Linked DNA regions of Homo sapiens: region 1 is linked to region 2. The links come from fine-mapping of genetic effects on gene expression. Tissue or cell type: testis. Region 2 holds a variant in brackets; the other region holds the start of a gene. All regions are shown on one strand. Distances are from middle to middle.

Region 1 (8,106 bases), 800 kb before region 2:
CCCAGAAATTTGAGACCAGCCGGGGCAACATGGCAAAATCCCATCTCTACAAAAAAGAAAAAAAAATTAGCCAGGCATGGTGGAACACACCTATCTACTACTACTCAGGAGGATATAGTGGGAGGACACATTGAGCCCACAAATTCAAGAACAGCCTGGGCAACAAGACAGAATAAATTCTGTCTCTATTTAAAAAGAAAAAAAGAGGCCGGGTGCAGTGGCTCACACCTGTAATCCCACCACTTTGGGAGGCCAAGGTGGGCATATCACAAGGTCGAGATGGAGACCATCCTGGCCAACATGGTGAAACCCCGTCTCTACTAAAAATACAAAAATTAGCTGGGCATGGTGGCACGTGCCTGTAGTCCCCACTACTTGGGAGGCCGAGGCAGGAGAACTGCTTGAACCCAGGAGGTGGAGGTTGTAGTGAACCGAGATCGCACCACTGCACTCCAGCCTGGTGACAGAGCGAGACTCAGTCTCAAAAAAAGAAAAAGGGAATATACTGTATATTTGAAAATTGCTAAGACAGATTTTAAGTGTTCTCACCACGCAAAAATAAGTATGTGAGGTAATGCATGTTAAATAGCTTGATTTAACCATTCAGTGTATACATATATCAAATCATGCTGAACACTATAAAAAATATAGTATACAACTTTTAGTTGTGAAAAAAACATGATTTATTAAATATTTCTCCCTTCTTCATCAACTCCCTCTTCCTTTTGCTACCTCACAGTCTTTGGAATTCTCAATCTGAAATGTACCCATCCCTCAAAACTCAATTTAAATCCCACTGGCCACACCAATGCTATGAAATTCCCCTCTCTGAATCCTAAAGCACATATCCTCATTCCCTTTATGCTGTTACTTTTTCTATGTTTGCCTTGTCTTTCCCCAAAAGCTGTAAGATCCTTAAGGGCAGGAGCCACATATCACTCCCTATCACCTCCAGGACACTCAGCAGAGAACCTTGGATATATTTAGGAAGAATCCGGTTATACTCAATTGTGTTAGGCCTCAATTTACAAATCAGATATGACAAATAATATATCACACCAAAAAGATCAAGAAACTTCTCCAGGCATTAACTAAGGCTTAGAAAAACACCTATTCAGCTTTTCAAATTATCCCTTTGAAGTAAGGACTTAAAGGTGAGAAGAAAAGATATAATCAATTGGGGAAGTTTAGACTGTCTTCTCACTCTTTTTTTTTTTTTTTTTTTTTTTTTGAGACAGGGTCTGGCTCTATTGCCCAGGCTGGAGTGCAATGGTGCGATCTCAGCTCACTGCAACCTCTGCTTCCTGGGGTCAGGCAATCCTCCTACCTCAGCCTCCTGAATAGCTGGGACTACAGGTGCATGCCACCACACACACGGCAAATTTTTTTATTTTTTGGTAGAGACGGGGTTTCTCCATGTTGCCCAGGCTAGTCTCGAACTCCTGAGCTCAAGCGATCTGCCTGCCTTGGACTCCCAAAGTATTGGGATTACAGGCCTGAGCCACCACGCCTGGCCAACTTCTCACTCTTAAAGGCAAAATAGTGAACAGCAACTTAAAGATCAAAAAAGCTAAGGATGGAATATTCAACAAGGCATCACATTCAACAACACACCACTGGTCACACACATACTGGCTGAATTCCAGACTCCCTCTCTATGGTAGAAGAGTTCTGCAGGCTCTGATGTTGGCTGGAAAAAAACTAGACACCTGCTCTTCCCAGCACTGAAATATGGCCAAAAAAAAAAACATAAACACACAGCAAAATCAGCAAACAAAGCTAAGTAGCATTTAGGCGGGGAGCAGTGGCTCACGCCTGTAATCCCAGCACTCTGGGAGCCCGAGTCGGGTGGATCACTTGAGGTCAAGAGTTCGAGACCAGCCTGGCCAACATGGTGAAACTGCATCTCTACTAAAAACACAAAAATTAGCCAGGGTGCGGTGGTCGTGCACCTATAGTCCCAGCTACCCGGAGGCCGAGGCAGGAGACTCTCTTGAACCCGGCAGGTGGAGGTTGCAGTCAGCCGAAATCATGCTCCTGGGTGATAGACAGAGGCTGTCTCAAAAAAAAAAAAAGAAAAAAGAAAAACAGCTAAGTAGCATTTAGATGAAACTATGACTCTGAAGTAGGGGGTGCGGCAAGTAGAGAGGAAAGAATGTATCATAATGCCTTAAACAAAACTTTTGAGTGAGAGAAGACTATAAAACACCCTTTAAGCACTTATTCACTGGACTCCATTTGTGTTTCTAAGAAATAAGATATACAGACTCACTTCAGAAGGTTTTCTCCTACACTGTATCTGAGACACCATAAATAGAAACATACATTATGTTGCCACTCTATCACAAGACTGAACCTGGACACTTGTAAGGAAAGGAACAACCATAAAGACAGTTGGCCAAGGACAGGATTGACATTCACTCTGGGGGAGCTCCTCGTAGTAGCTACAACCCAACCCAAAACAGTTTCTGGGTTTGTGATGCTGGTGCTGGCTAGTATGCTGCATAAATGTTGTTTGTTTTTGTAGAGAGGGGTCTCACTCTGTTGCCCAGGCTGGTCTCAAACTCCTGGCCTCAAGCAATCCTCCTGCCTCGTCCTCCCAAAGCACTGGGATTACAGACCTAAGCCACCGCGCCTGACCTACAAAAGTGTTTTCTTCCCAACCACAGCACTGCCTCTCAAGGGGCTAACACTCTGGCAGAAACTCGTGAAAACCAATTTCACGTCAGAGGAAGCATCCCCAACATTCTGTCCCGGCTCTTTTTCTTAGGTGAAGAAAGGGACAGGGCGGGGGGCGGAACAATGATATTAAAGACACTGGCAGCATGACAACCAAAATAAACGAAGTTGAAACAGTACGTCCTGCCTTCTTCCTAAAGCCATTTCCTTCAACAGTGATAGGAGTGCAGACCGTCTGCAAGTCATTAGTACGCTGCTGTCTTCACTGTCACAAGGACCCTGGAAACCACTGAAGAGCAAAATCCCCCTTTTCGCCCCACAGATACCTTCCAACCCCCTTTCTGTGCTTCCTTCCCTAGAAAAAACCGAAGAGTGACAATCCTCAGCAATCCGCTATTTCGCTTCACTGACAAGGGAGGTGGCGGGGGCGGTGGGGGGTGAAAAGTGGAAAAGAACACAGAGGAAGGTGAGAAGACACAGTGGAAGAAGTGTGGGGGGAGGTCATCGTAGGAAAAAGACCAGGTATAAAAGAATGCAAGAAAATTGAGGGGAGAGTTATCAGAGGGAAACTTGCTAAGAAAAAAAAAAATTAAGGACACGGGAGGTAAAGAGGTGAGGTCAGGTGGAGCAGCCCAGGATGAATTAAGAGGTGGGCAGGAGGTACGGGGCCGAGGCCGTGATGCCCAGGGTTTAGGGCCGGCGGCTTAGAAGTGGGCAGCAGGTATTCGGCAGACCGATGTCGGGCGAGTCAATGATGTGCAGAAAGCTCCAGACCCAGTTCCGGGAAATCGGGGCCAGGAATCTATGAGGTTCCCAAGTATAGAGAACACAGCGCTCTTACCGGTAGTTTGGGGCTGACCTCGCCCTTGCAAAAGTGGCAGAAAAACCGGTGGGCGGCTACAGCGGCGCCCGAGTCCGCCCCGGCCGCCGAAGCCTCCGCCATTTTTGCCCTCCGCCGCGGCCGTCCGAGAGGGCAGCCGGCCCGTCCCTCGCCAGGCCGCTACCTCCCGAGCTGCAGTCGTCGCCGCCGCCGCCGCCTCGGTGCGGCCCACCGCTTCAGAGCCCGCGTCGGTCACGTGAGTTGGCCAGGCCCAGAAACGCGGCGGCGCCAACAGCTACCCTGCGGCCCGCCTCCCAGCACCAAAGAGGCGCAGGAAGGAGAGACAAACGGCCCGCCCGCCGGCTCCACAAACAGCCCCTCGCTGGTCCTCCAGTCTTCCAGCGAGAAGAAAGAAAGAGCGTCCCCGGAAGCCGCCGAAACTCTGGGGTAGAGTGGCACGCGCTTTTTGCTTTTCCGCGTCTTCTTCGGTGGCGATCCGCGTCCTAGAAAGGGCGGTGGGCTCCACCTCGGCCTAGAAGGCCAGCGGGAGCCGTAGGAAGCCGTCGCGGGAAGCTCAGCCGAATTGGAGTTGGAGCCCCCGGATTGCGCTGACCCTGAGGTTAGTGGAAAATGCTGTCTGAACGTGGCGGCACTGACTGGACCAAGAGACCACGTCCGAAACGGGAACCTGTGTAAAGGAAGTGTAGAGCTAGGAGCCAAGCGCCTTGGAAGCCCTTTCCGAGGATGGCAAAGGATCTGGGAATGCTTCTCCAAAGATATGTGGATGGACGAAATAGGTCTCTGGTGATACTGAGGCGGGGTGGGGACGGGGAGGCAAAGACTTGGCTTCTTAGGAATTGGAAGAAATAAGTAAACAATGTTTGGTAGCAATTTGTAATAAGGAAGTAATCATAAAATTAACTACGTCCGTTTCTGATTGTGTCAACTTTGTCAAGGAGTAGAAGTTTAAGAATTGAATACTGTCCTGCAAACAACGTAACCTCATCTCCTGTTTGACACACCCTGTTGAGAAGCAGTCCTTTACCTCCTAAATTTCTTTTTCGAAATTATCATTTCCTTTATGGACTGAGAATAACACTGCCTGTTCACTCCCACCGAGCTGTGAACAGTGACCTTAATTCTTCCAAGCAGTGAAGTGTAGAAACTAAGGTCTGTGACAGACCGCAAAATCATCTCCCAATCTTTAAGGAAAATCAGAATCACGCATAATCCCATAGAGATAAATTTGATGCATAGTCTTTTCCTATGCATACATTTTTCCTTTTTTTTTACAATAATTGAATTTTTATATTTTTTCAGCTTGCTTCTGTCACTTAATATATTATGAGTAATTTTTTTTGTTTTTTTTTGTTTTGGAGACAGAATCTCGCACTGTCGCCCGGGTTGGAGTGCAGTGGCGCGATCTCGGCTCACTGCAACCTCTGCCTCCCGGCTTCAAGCGATTCTCCTGTCTCAGCCTCCCTAGTAGCTGGGATTACAGGCACCCGCCACCACGCCCAGCTAATTTTTTTGTGTGTTTTTAGTAGAGAAGGGGTTTCACTATATTGGCCAGGCTGGTCTCAAACTCCTGACCTCATGATACGCCCACCTCGGTCTCCCAAAGTGCTAGGATTACAGGCCTGAGCCACCGCGCCAGCCTATTATGAATAATTTTCTACATGAATACGCATCGTACTAAATAACTTTAAATGTTGGTGTAGTATGCCATTGTATGGGTATGGCATCATTTATTGTTAGACGTTAGATTGTTTCCACTAAGTCGGTATTATAAAGAGAACTAATGACTTCATTATTATTAGCTTTTTCTTTCTTTGGACACAATATCCAAAAAGAAATTGTTGTTTCAAAGATATGCAAGATTTTTAAGGCTTTTTGATATGTATTGTCAAATTGCCCTCCAGAAAGAATACATGAATTTACACTCAGCAGCTCTGCTTCCAGCGTGAAAGACTTTCTATTGTACCATTTTGGTGTTTTTTCCCTAGCTCTCAGACTCCCCAGTACAATGACTCAAGCAGAAATTAAGCTCTGTTCTTTGTTGCTGCAAGAGCATTTTGGAGAGATTGTAGAAAAAATTGGAGTCCATCTGATAAGAACCGGCAGCCAGCCACTAAGAGTAATTGCCCATGACACAGGAACATCACTGGATCAGGTATGTCTAAATGACATTCATTTTCTCTCATTTCTTTCACTAATTTATTTCACCCACCTTTGAATATTGTTCTTCTCACCCCAGAAAAGGAAAAATGAAGAAAGCCTGCCCTTGGAGCAGAACAATGTTATTTCGGGGAGAAAAGGATGAGACTTAGACATCAACATTTTGTTTCTCAAAGTGTTCCTAGTTCATCACAGCTTTTAGGCAAATCTTTGCTCTTCCCATGCCGTACCTCATTTATTCACAATAAGTCTATTAATCTCAGTACTGCCTTTAAGGAATGAGAATGATGAAAGTAAATTGTGTTTTGAGAGATAAGGATCAGAGGAAATATAGCAAGGAATCTTCCTGATTTATTGTATTGATGTGTGATTCTTATTAGCTCCTCCAGTGGAGAGAGGAAATAAGTGCAGAAATTATCTAGCCATTTTCTGATGCTTACTAAGCTGTTGGACAAAAAATTGCCAGCAGTAATGAGCTATATCTTCAGGTCTTTCCTCTCTTTCTTCTCTTTATGTTCCATTTAGGTGAAGAAAGCCCTGTGTGTCCTCGTCCAACATAACCTGGTGAGTTATCAAGTGCACAAACGTGGTGTGGTGGAGTATGAAGCCCAGTGCAGCCGGGTATTGCGAATGCTTAGATATCCCCGGTACATCTATACTACCAAAACTCTGTACAGTGACACTGGAGAGCTGATTGTTGAGGAGCTTCTGTTGAACGGCAAACTGACAATGTCAGCTGTTGTGAAGAAAGTGGCAGACCGGCTCACAGAGACCATGGAGGGTCAGTATGGTATCCATAGCTGTTAACAAAAGCATAGATCAGCTGGCTATGGGAGTGAACCCTGAGCTATCTTAGGCCATCTCATCTGCCTTTTTCCTCCTGTTATACAGATGGCAAGACCATGGACTATGCTGAAGTATCAAACACATTTGTGCGACTGGCAGACACACACTTTGTACAACGCTGCCCTTCGGTACCTACCACTGAGAATTCAGACCCTGGGCCACCACCACCTGCCCCCACACTTGTCATTAATGAAAAGGACATGTACCTGGTTCCTAAACTCAGCTTGATAGGTAAGGAATTTTAACCCCTGGAACTGTGACTTGCCTTAATTGTGGATTCTTCTTGATTGTCAAGTGTATGAAATGTGATTGTATTTACCAAGTATTTGCTATGTGCCAGACATCGTGGTGTATAACAATGAAAAAATCATGGTCTCTGCCATGGGGCTTTAGTATAGGAGACATACATTAATCGGAAAATCACATCGATATATCATTAAACGGTGATAAGTACTATGAAGGAAATATTCCTATGAAGGAACTGTCATAGTATTATGAGACATGCATTAATCAGAAAATCACATCAGTATATAATTAAACTGTAATAAGTGCCATGAAGGAAAAGTATGAGGTGTTATGAAAATATATAATGGAGACTTTGGGAGACTGAGGCAGGCGAATTGCATGAGGCCAGGAGTTCGAGACCAGCCTGGGCAACATGTTGAAACCCCATCTCTACTAAAATTATAAAAATTAGCCAGGTAGCCGGGCATGGTGGTTCACGCCTGTAATCCCAGCACTTTGGGAGGCCAAGGTGGGCGGATCACGAGGTCAGGAGATCGAGACCATCCTGGCTAATACCGGGAAACCCCGTCTATACTAAAAATACAAAAAATTAGCTGGGTGTGGTGGCGGGCATCTGTAGTCCCAGCTACTTGGGAGGCTGAGGCAGGAAAATAGCATGAACCCGGGAAGCGGAGGTTGCAGTGAGCCGAGATCGTGCCACTGCACTCCAGCCTGGGCAACAGAGCCAGACTCCGTCTCAAAAAAAAAAAAAAAAAAAAATAGCCAGGTATGGTGGCATACGCCTGTAATCCCAGCTACTCGGGAGGCTGGGGCAGGAGAATTGCTTGAACCCAGGAGACAGCGATTGCAGTGAGCCAAGATTGCACCACTGTACTCCAGCCTGGGTGACAGAGTGAGACTCTGTCTCGGGAAAAAAAAAAGAAAAGAAAATATATAACGAGAGACGGGATTCATCTGGGAGTTTAGGCCTCATGTTTCTTTGAGAAGGTGGCATTTGAGCTAAGATTTGAAGTAGAAGCTAACAGTGAGGTAACAGGAAAAGCATTTTTGGCAGAGGGAATAGTATGTAGTAAAAAAATAGCATTTGAGGAAATGAAAGAATGTCAGTATAGCTAAAGCATTGTAAGCAAAGCAAGAGAGGCATGAGGTAAGGTTAGAGACATAGCTAGGCAGGGGTCTGATCTCAGAAGCTAATCAGGATCAACCTGCTTAGTACTTGGATGGGAGACAGGCAGGGGCTGAATCAAGTAAGACCTTATAGAGCATCTGTTCTTTATGCTAAGAGCAAAGGAAGACCACTGAAGGATTTTTAAGGAAATGACATGATCTAATTTGCA
Region 2 (8,106 bases):
AATTACTTACATGATCTCACTATTATGTCTCCAAGCATTGTAAACACATTGCTCTGACTCTGTTTGGATTCCCACAGCAGCAGGTTGTTAATTACCATGGCAGTTTCTCTTATTCTGGTAACTGCTAGCAAGACCTCCCTCCATCTACAAGCTGAGGTCTCCCTTGGGGCAAGCCCTGGGGATAACATAGAAAAGAGATAGAGACATATGACCTGAAGGATCCAAGGAAAATGTACTGATCTCATGATATATACTATACATTCAGAATCTCAAGATTAGCTGAAAGGTGATTACTATTTATTCTCAACTCTTCCACCTCAGTGTCCCTGTTATGCACTGAATTGTTTCCCGCAGAATTTATATGTTGAAGTCCTAACACCCAGTACCTCGGAATGTAACTCTTCTTGGACATAGGGCCTTTAAAGAGGTAATTAAGGCAAAATGAGGTCAGATGGGTGGGCTTTAATCCAATATGATTGGTGTCCTTATAAGGAGAGGACATTAGGACACAGACATACACATAGAAAAGGGCCATGTGAAAAAATAAAGAGAAGCTGAAGCGAGAGACCCTCAGAAAAAAATAACCCTGCAATCACCAACCCGTCTGACAGCAACAGAAATAAACTTATGTTGTTTAAGCCACCCAGTCTAGGGTACTTTGTTATGGCAGCCCTAGCAAAGTCATACAACCCCCAACAACTAAGGAGAGTGAACGTGTGTGCCTCAAGGGTTCTGTGGCATGACCAAAGCAACCTGTCACAATCATAATCTTTTTTATTTTTAAGTCTCAAGACTTATCTGAAACATTCACAAGACATTTACGTTCTCTTCCATAATACATGTGTGTTTGTTATAAGAGAAAAATGAGGGTTGTTTTCCAAATATTTGAATAACATTGACTCTTCACGAATATGTGCCGTGCTTATCCCAGCCCATGGTTAACATCCTTTGGGTATGTATACAACATGAGAAGGGTGGGAATACACTTTCATTTATATGAACTTCAGCCCACTTCCTACCTTCATAACATCTCATCTCTCATGACAAGCAGTGAAGGGTGGTTCTCTGAAGAAGTAGGAAGAACAAACTTGTGAATATAACCTTGTCTCCAATTCACGGATCCTCTAGTCCCATGAGGGCCTTTGATATGATCCAGCAGATCAACTCTTGGAAGCTGACTACTGGGCATCAGGAAGTATTGCTCTGAGTCATAAGCACCCTTGACAACATCCAGTATCATAAGCAAGCCTTCATACATAAGCAGCAAAGATAAAACCTTTAAGCTCTGCTCTAAAAACATTTAAGATAGAAGGAATAATGGCCCTATCTGTAGGAAGGAAAGTATAGGATATTAAAGGAGCAGTTTTACTTTTCAGGTAGATGAAAGAAAGGGAAAGTGCTAGCCAAGGAAGGCTAACTGCCCCTCAAGTTTAATAAGAAAGCCCATCCCAATTTCACCTGGCCATTCCCCATTTTAAGTTCAGGCCTAATAATACTGTGTCTTACCATCAACATACATAGCTACCCCTTTTAGGAATAAATATGTATTTTGGATATTTGTTAAATAAACTCTTATTGAGTACCTCCTTCAAGCAAGGTTGTATATTAGGTGCAAGAACTCATGTATTTGGGTTTGTTAGACATTCCTGATGCATGAATACTACTGCCCTCATTTTTGACTCTGAATTATTTACCCAAATTCAGGATTGCCCATTCTTTAAACTATTCCCTAAAGAAACTTAAAAATACAGTAAAAGAAATAACAAAGGAATTCAAAAGGGTAGAAAATATCCATTTAACACAAAGAAAGGCAGTAATGGAGGAATAGAGGAACAGAAAAGATATGAGACATATAGAAAATAAGTAGCATGAGTCCTGCCCTATCAACAATTACATTAAATGTCAATGTATTAAATACTTCAATTAAAAGTTAGAGAATGGCAGAATGGATTAGAACAAAACAAACAACCCCGCCAAAAATCTATATCTTTTTGCTTTTTACAAGATATCTATCTTGTATCTATATGCTTTTTACAAGATACCACACTTTAGATTTAAAGATATGAATAGGTTGAAACCAAAAGGATGGAAATATATACACCATGCAAGCAGTACCAAAAGAAAGCTGGAGAGTCTATGTTATATCAGACAAAATAGACTTTAAAATAAAAATTGTTACTCAAGACAAAGAAGGGCATTTTACAATGATAAGATAGTGAGTTCATCAAAAAGATATGGCAATTATAAACACACATCTAATAACAGAGCACCAAAATCTGTGAAGTGCAGAAAGATAGAATTGAAGGGAGAAATAGACAATTCAGCAAAATAGTAAGGGATGTCAATACCCCACTTTCAATAATAAAAAACTAAGCAGAAGATCACAAAGGAAATAGAAGAGTTGAACACTATAAACCACCTAGACCTAACAGACATCTACAGCACACTCTACCCAACAGGAATAAAAGAAAGGACATTACTACCAACCTTACAGAAATTAAAAGGATTAGTGGATAATGCTATGAACAATTGTATGCCAAAAATTAGATAATGTAGATGATATGAACAAATTCCTAGAAAGACACGAACTACCAAAACTGACTCAAGAAGAAATAGAAAATCTGAATAGACCTGTAATATATTCCAACCAAAAAACAAACAAACAAAAAACAAGATCAAGTGGCTTCACTGGTAAATTCTACTGAATGTTTAATGAAGAATTGTCATAAATCTTTCACAAACTCTTCCAAAAAATAAGAAGGTGGGAACACTTTTCAACTCATTTTATGAGGCCAGTATTACCCTGATACCAAAACCAAATGAAAACATTACAAGAAAAGAAAGCTAAAAACCCATAACCTTTATGGATTTAGACCCAAAAATCTTTGACAAAATACTAGCAAACCAAATCCAGCAACATGTGGAAAGGATTATACCCCATGACGAAGTGGGATTTATCCTGAATGATGAAAGGTTGGCTTAACATAAGAAAATCAATCAATGTAATACAACATATTAATAGAATAAAGGACAAAAACCACATGATTATTTCAGTAAACACAGAAAAAGCATTTGCCAAAATTTAGCACCCTTTTATGATTAAAAAAAAAAAGTAACAAACTAGGAGTAGAAGGGAACTGCCTCTACATGGATCAAAGACTGAAATGTAAGGGCTGAAACTATAAAACTGTTAGAAGACAACATATGGATAGGCC[C/T]GGTGTGGTGGCTCATGCCTGTAATCTCAGCACTTTGGGAGGCTGAGGCAGGCAGATTACCTGAGGCCAGGAGTTCGAGACCAGCCTGGCCAACATGGTGAAACCCTGTCTCTACTAAAAATACAAAAAAATTAACTGGGCATGGTGATGCATGCCTGTAATTCCAGCTACTTGAGAGGCTGAGGCAGGAGAATCACTTGAACCCAGGAGGTGGAGATTGCAGTGAGCGGAGATTGTGCCACTGCACTGCAGCCTGGGTGACAGAGTGAGACTCTGTCTCAAAAACAAACAAACAAAAAAAATAGGGTTAAATATCCATATCCAAAAACCAAATAAGCAATAGTTTTCAGATAATCAGCATCTAAGCACAAGCAACCAAAGAAAAAATAAATAAATTAGACTTCATCAGAATGTAAAAAAGTTTGTGCTTGAAAGGGGATACTGTCAAGAAAGTGAAAAGACAACCTTCACAATGGGAGAAAGTATGTGCAACTCATATATCTGATAAGGGACAATAAATTATTGGACAATTATAACTCAATAAATAATTCAATTTAAAAATGGACAAAGCGTTTAAGCAGACATTTCTCAAAGAAGATATACAAGAGGCCAATAACACATGAAAAGACTGTCAATATCATTAATCCTCAGGGAGATGTAAATCAAAACCCCACAATGAGATACTACTTCACACTCACTTGGATGGCTATAATCTTAAAATGGAAAATACAGTAGTTTCCCTTTATCTGCATTTTTAGGCCCCAAAGCGCAAAAGTAAAATTAGGGTTACTCAGACACAAGCACTGCAATACTGTGGCAGTTGATCTGATAACCAAGACAGCTACTAAGTGACTAAAGAGCGGGTAGCATATGCAGCATCGATACACTGGACAAAAGGGTGACTCATGACCTCGGCTGGACAGAGAGTGGATGACACAAGACTTCATCACACTACGCAAAGTGCACTTAACAATTTCTGACTGATTTGTTTCTGGAAATTTTTTATTTAATATTTTTGGACCGTGTTGACCATAAGTAACTGAAACAACAGAAAATCAAAACTACAGATAAGGAACTACTGTAAGTATTGGTGAAAAGGTGGAGGAATGAGAACTCCCATACACTGGTAATTAGGAATGTAAGACATGGCAGCCACTTTAGAAAATGATTTATCAGCACCTCAAACATGTAAACACTGAGTTACCATATGACCAGCAATTCCACTCCTAGGTATATACCCAAGAGGAATGAAAGCATATATCCACACAAAAACTTGTACATGAATGTTTATAACAGTATCATTCATAGTAGCCAAAGATAAATGAAATGTGTTATATCTATACAATGGAATACTATTTGACCATAAAAAGGAATGAAAAAAAATGAAGCACTGATAGATGCTACAACATGGTAGCATGAATGAACCTTGCTACCACGGTCTTTTGTGACTAGCTTCTTTCACTTGTCATAATGATTTCAAGGTTCAGCCATAATGACACCATTATAAACCTTGAAAATAAGGTTCATCCATTATGAACCTTGAAAACATTATGAAAGAACCCGGTCACGAAAGACCACATTACATGATTCCATTTATATGAAATGGTTAAAGTAGGCAAATCTATATAGATCTGAGGTAGATTAGTGGTTGCTTAGGGCTGGAGGGTGCAGGATAGTGGGTGACAGCTAAAGGGCATGAGGTTTCTTTTTGAGGTGATAAAAACGTTCTCAAATTGACTGTAGTGATGGTTGCATATATTTGTGAATATACAAAAAACATTGATTTGTACACTTTAAATGTGTGAATTGTATGATGTGTGAATTATATCTCAATGAAGCTGTCATTTAAAAAAAAATTCCAGGAGGCTGTAATAGTGAATAATACTTCTGTAATTTCCTGGGTGAATTTTTTAAATCTCTGATCTGTTCTCCTAAAGATCCCAGAGTAGTCATGCATGTCACTTGCAATGTCTAAATAGGTTAAGGTGTACTTGGGTTTTCCATTGGGAATAATAGGATTTAGGGATCTCCCAGGAATCTGCTCACAAGTGAACTTGGACTAGTTAGTACTCCACCTGCTCTGTGCAGGGTAAGCCTCTTGTTCTATCTTCTGGACATTTCCATTTACCAAAATTCACATGCCACTTCTTGATTTTGGATGTTCATTTCTAGTTTCCTTCAACAAACCTGACTATGGAAAGAATCTTTATGGGGATTTATCACCAAACTCATGATCAATTGCTAAGAGAAATAGACTTACATAAATTTCCTCCTCAGTTCACTTCCTTTAAAGCTCAGTGTTTCATTTGTCCAATAGTGTTGAATTGTTAGTGGTTTGTAGCATTTCAAACCACTAACAATAATTTTGAAAACCTGTTAAAAATCTAGTGTCATGAATAAATGTCTACTCATAAAGGGCAAAAATGCATGTATAATACATCATCTGTTCTCAGCTCCACACATTAACACTGACTTGACTTGTTATTTTACTTTGTCAGAAATACTTTCTTGGGCCTCATAGCCCAGGAAATGTCTATAAAGTTAATATCGTAGGTTCTGGAATTTTGTTTCTTACTTTTTTATTGCCAGGTACTCATTTCTCAGTACTGCATAAGCTAGTATTTTAGCTAATGTGCCTTGAAAGATCATAACAAATATTATACTTTCACTCTTTCTGTTTACTCTTCCAGTTATATAACACAATATTTTCAGTGGTTGGATAAACAACACTAAAATTAGTGTGATTTTTTAAATTACCCACAAGCAATTTTCTTCCCTCCTATTTTTATGTATGTGATTTTATAAAGTTTGAACCATAGCACAGATACATTTTGTATTCAACTTGTCTCACTTACGTATTGTAATAATTGAATCATTCTCTCTCTTGTCTTTCAAATTATAGTTTTAACAGACCCCTGCACTGATTTATGACACAGCCTTGGCATAGATTGTCCTAACATTCTGAATCCCTGTGAGAATTAATGTGACCATATCTAAGTCCAGATGGGATGGTTCAGCCACAATTCCCTCAGTTACATGTGCCTTTGAACAAGTGTCATGTATCTCTGGTTGTTTAAACTTCTGCATTGATTAAATGTCTGCTTTGTGTAAATTTTTTAAACTTCTTTCCTACTTTCTTTAGCATCTTGCGCATGTCAGACACTTTTGATCTATTTGTTACTTTGGTCCCTAAAAGCTTTTTTTCAAGTGAAGCATATAGCCTGTCGGCCTGTTTGTTGACTTCATTCTCAACTGGATCCCAATTCCTGGCTGAGTCCCAACCACTCCCTTTAAAATCACTTCAGATCGTTAGCATGAGATATAATAAATGCTCATGAGAAAGTTAGACCTGAAACTTGTTGCAGTGAGTCTTTGCTGTGGCCATTCCTCCCAGGCTTACAACAACCTCTCATCACATTATAGTCAGAGCTGAAGCAACCGGAAGTATCACTAAGGTACCAATCCATGTCTTTACATGGATCATGGAGAAAAATATTATTGCTCTGAAGGTAAACAAGATAACCGAATAGTTTTCTTTTGCTGTTGTAACAAATTATCACAAATTTAGTAGCTTCAAACAACACATACTTAATATTTTACAGTTTTATAGACTTAATGCAGGTCTAGCTAGGCTAAAATCAGTGTTGGCAGGGCTGTGTTTCCTTCTGAAGGCTCTAGAGGGGAACCCATTTCCTAACCTTTTTTGGCTTTCTGAGGCTGCTCACATTCCTGGATTCCTTCTTCTGTGTTCAAAGTTTCCTTCTTCTGTGTTCAAAGCCAGGTTGAGTTCTCAGATTGCAGCACTCTGACCTCCTCTTCTGTCTCTTTCCTCTATTTTTAAAATCACCCTTGTGATTACAGTGGGCCTACTAGGATAAGACAGGATAATCTCCTCATCTTAAATTCAGTTAATTAGCAACCCTAATTCCATCTGCTACCTTAATTCCTCTTTGCCATGTAACCTAATATATTCATAGGTTCTGGGAATTAGGACATAGATATCTCTGGGAGCCATTATTCTACCTACAATACCTTCTAAGCTAGAAGTCATAGAATCTCTCTATTATTTATTTTAAGCTACAGCATCTCTCCAAGATCATAAAGCCTTACACTGAGAGAGAAATAGACCAACATTTAGAGTAAAGAGTCATTCAGTGTCACCTAGTCCAGTCCTCTCTTTTATACACGAGGAAGAGAAACAGAAGCTGATAGAGATAAAGTGGCTGGCCAACATCACAGTGAGTGAATGTCACAGTGGTAGGAATGTCACAGTGGTAAGAGTGGAATTGGAACAGTTTATATGAAAGCATGGACAGGGATTACTAGTATCAATGATAGTCTTTGATGTGTATTACATGATTAGACCTATAATTTTTATTTCTTGACACATTAATAACTTTACATGATATGTGTCTCATTCAAAATAACAACATTTTGTGCCCTTGTTTGGTGATCCATCTGCTCTGCCTCTCACCTATTCATTGGTAGAAATAAGATAATAAGTTAACCACAGCATTGTTTGTCAAAACCCATGGTTTGAATCATGAAAAAGAATTTTAAGAACCACTGTGATAGACCATCATGTCATCATTTCTTTAAATCCTGGATACTATAATTGACATAAAGTCAAGGTATGGTTTTTGTACTTATCCTTGCCCTACTTCCTGATTGTGACTCTGATTCACTGGATTCTCTCCCTCTCCCCCACCTTGTATTCCTCCTTCCAGAGGCTGTGTCATTGGACCTACCTTCCATTTTAATGTTCCAGCTCTGCACTTTGGTGATGTTTCCTTTGGTGAGTAATTTTCCATTTTAAATTAGAAATTGAATAGGATTCCTTTTCTCTACGTGGAAGGAGGAAGGTTTACAAAGAACCCCCGTTCCACAGCAC

Alleles and levels. Positions count from the first base shown, and alleles are read on the strand shown. Sizes are in standard deviations (SD) of each study's normalised expression.
With allele C in place of T in region 2, the expression in testis of the gene that starts at base 3,949 in region 1 is higher (small effect, 0.26 SD a copy in GTEx).

The links. PIP is the estimated chance that this variant, and not a neighbour inherited with it, causes the effect.
Region 1: it holds the start of POLR3C, and the variant in region 2 is fine-mapped to the expression of POLR3C in testis (GTEx, PIP above 0.99).

The regions. Positions count from the first base shown.
Region 1 is chr1:145,820,252-145,828,357 of GRCh38, forward strand. It overlaps POLR3C (RNA polymerase III subunit C), which reads left to right and starts at 3,949. Exons shown (of 15, transcript NM_006468.8): 1 at 3,949-4,118; 2 at 5,506-5,672; 3 at 6,203-6,458; 4 at 6,569-6,754. The coding sequence starts at 5,526. It overlaps RNF115 (ring finger protein 115), which reads right to left and starts at 3,844. Exons shown (of 9, transcript NM_014455.4): 1 at 3,521-3,844. The coding sequence starts at 3,622. RefSeq lists an enhancer at 3,810-4,209.
Region 2 is chr1:146,623,067-146,631,172 of GRCh38, forward strand. It overlaps the pseudogene HYDIN2. Among named protein-coding and RNA genes, the nearest start is that of TRN-GTT24-1, 260 kb to the left of the region's middle. The variant C/T (reference allele first, on the strand shown) is at 3,216.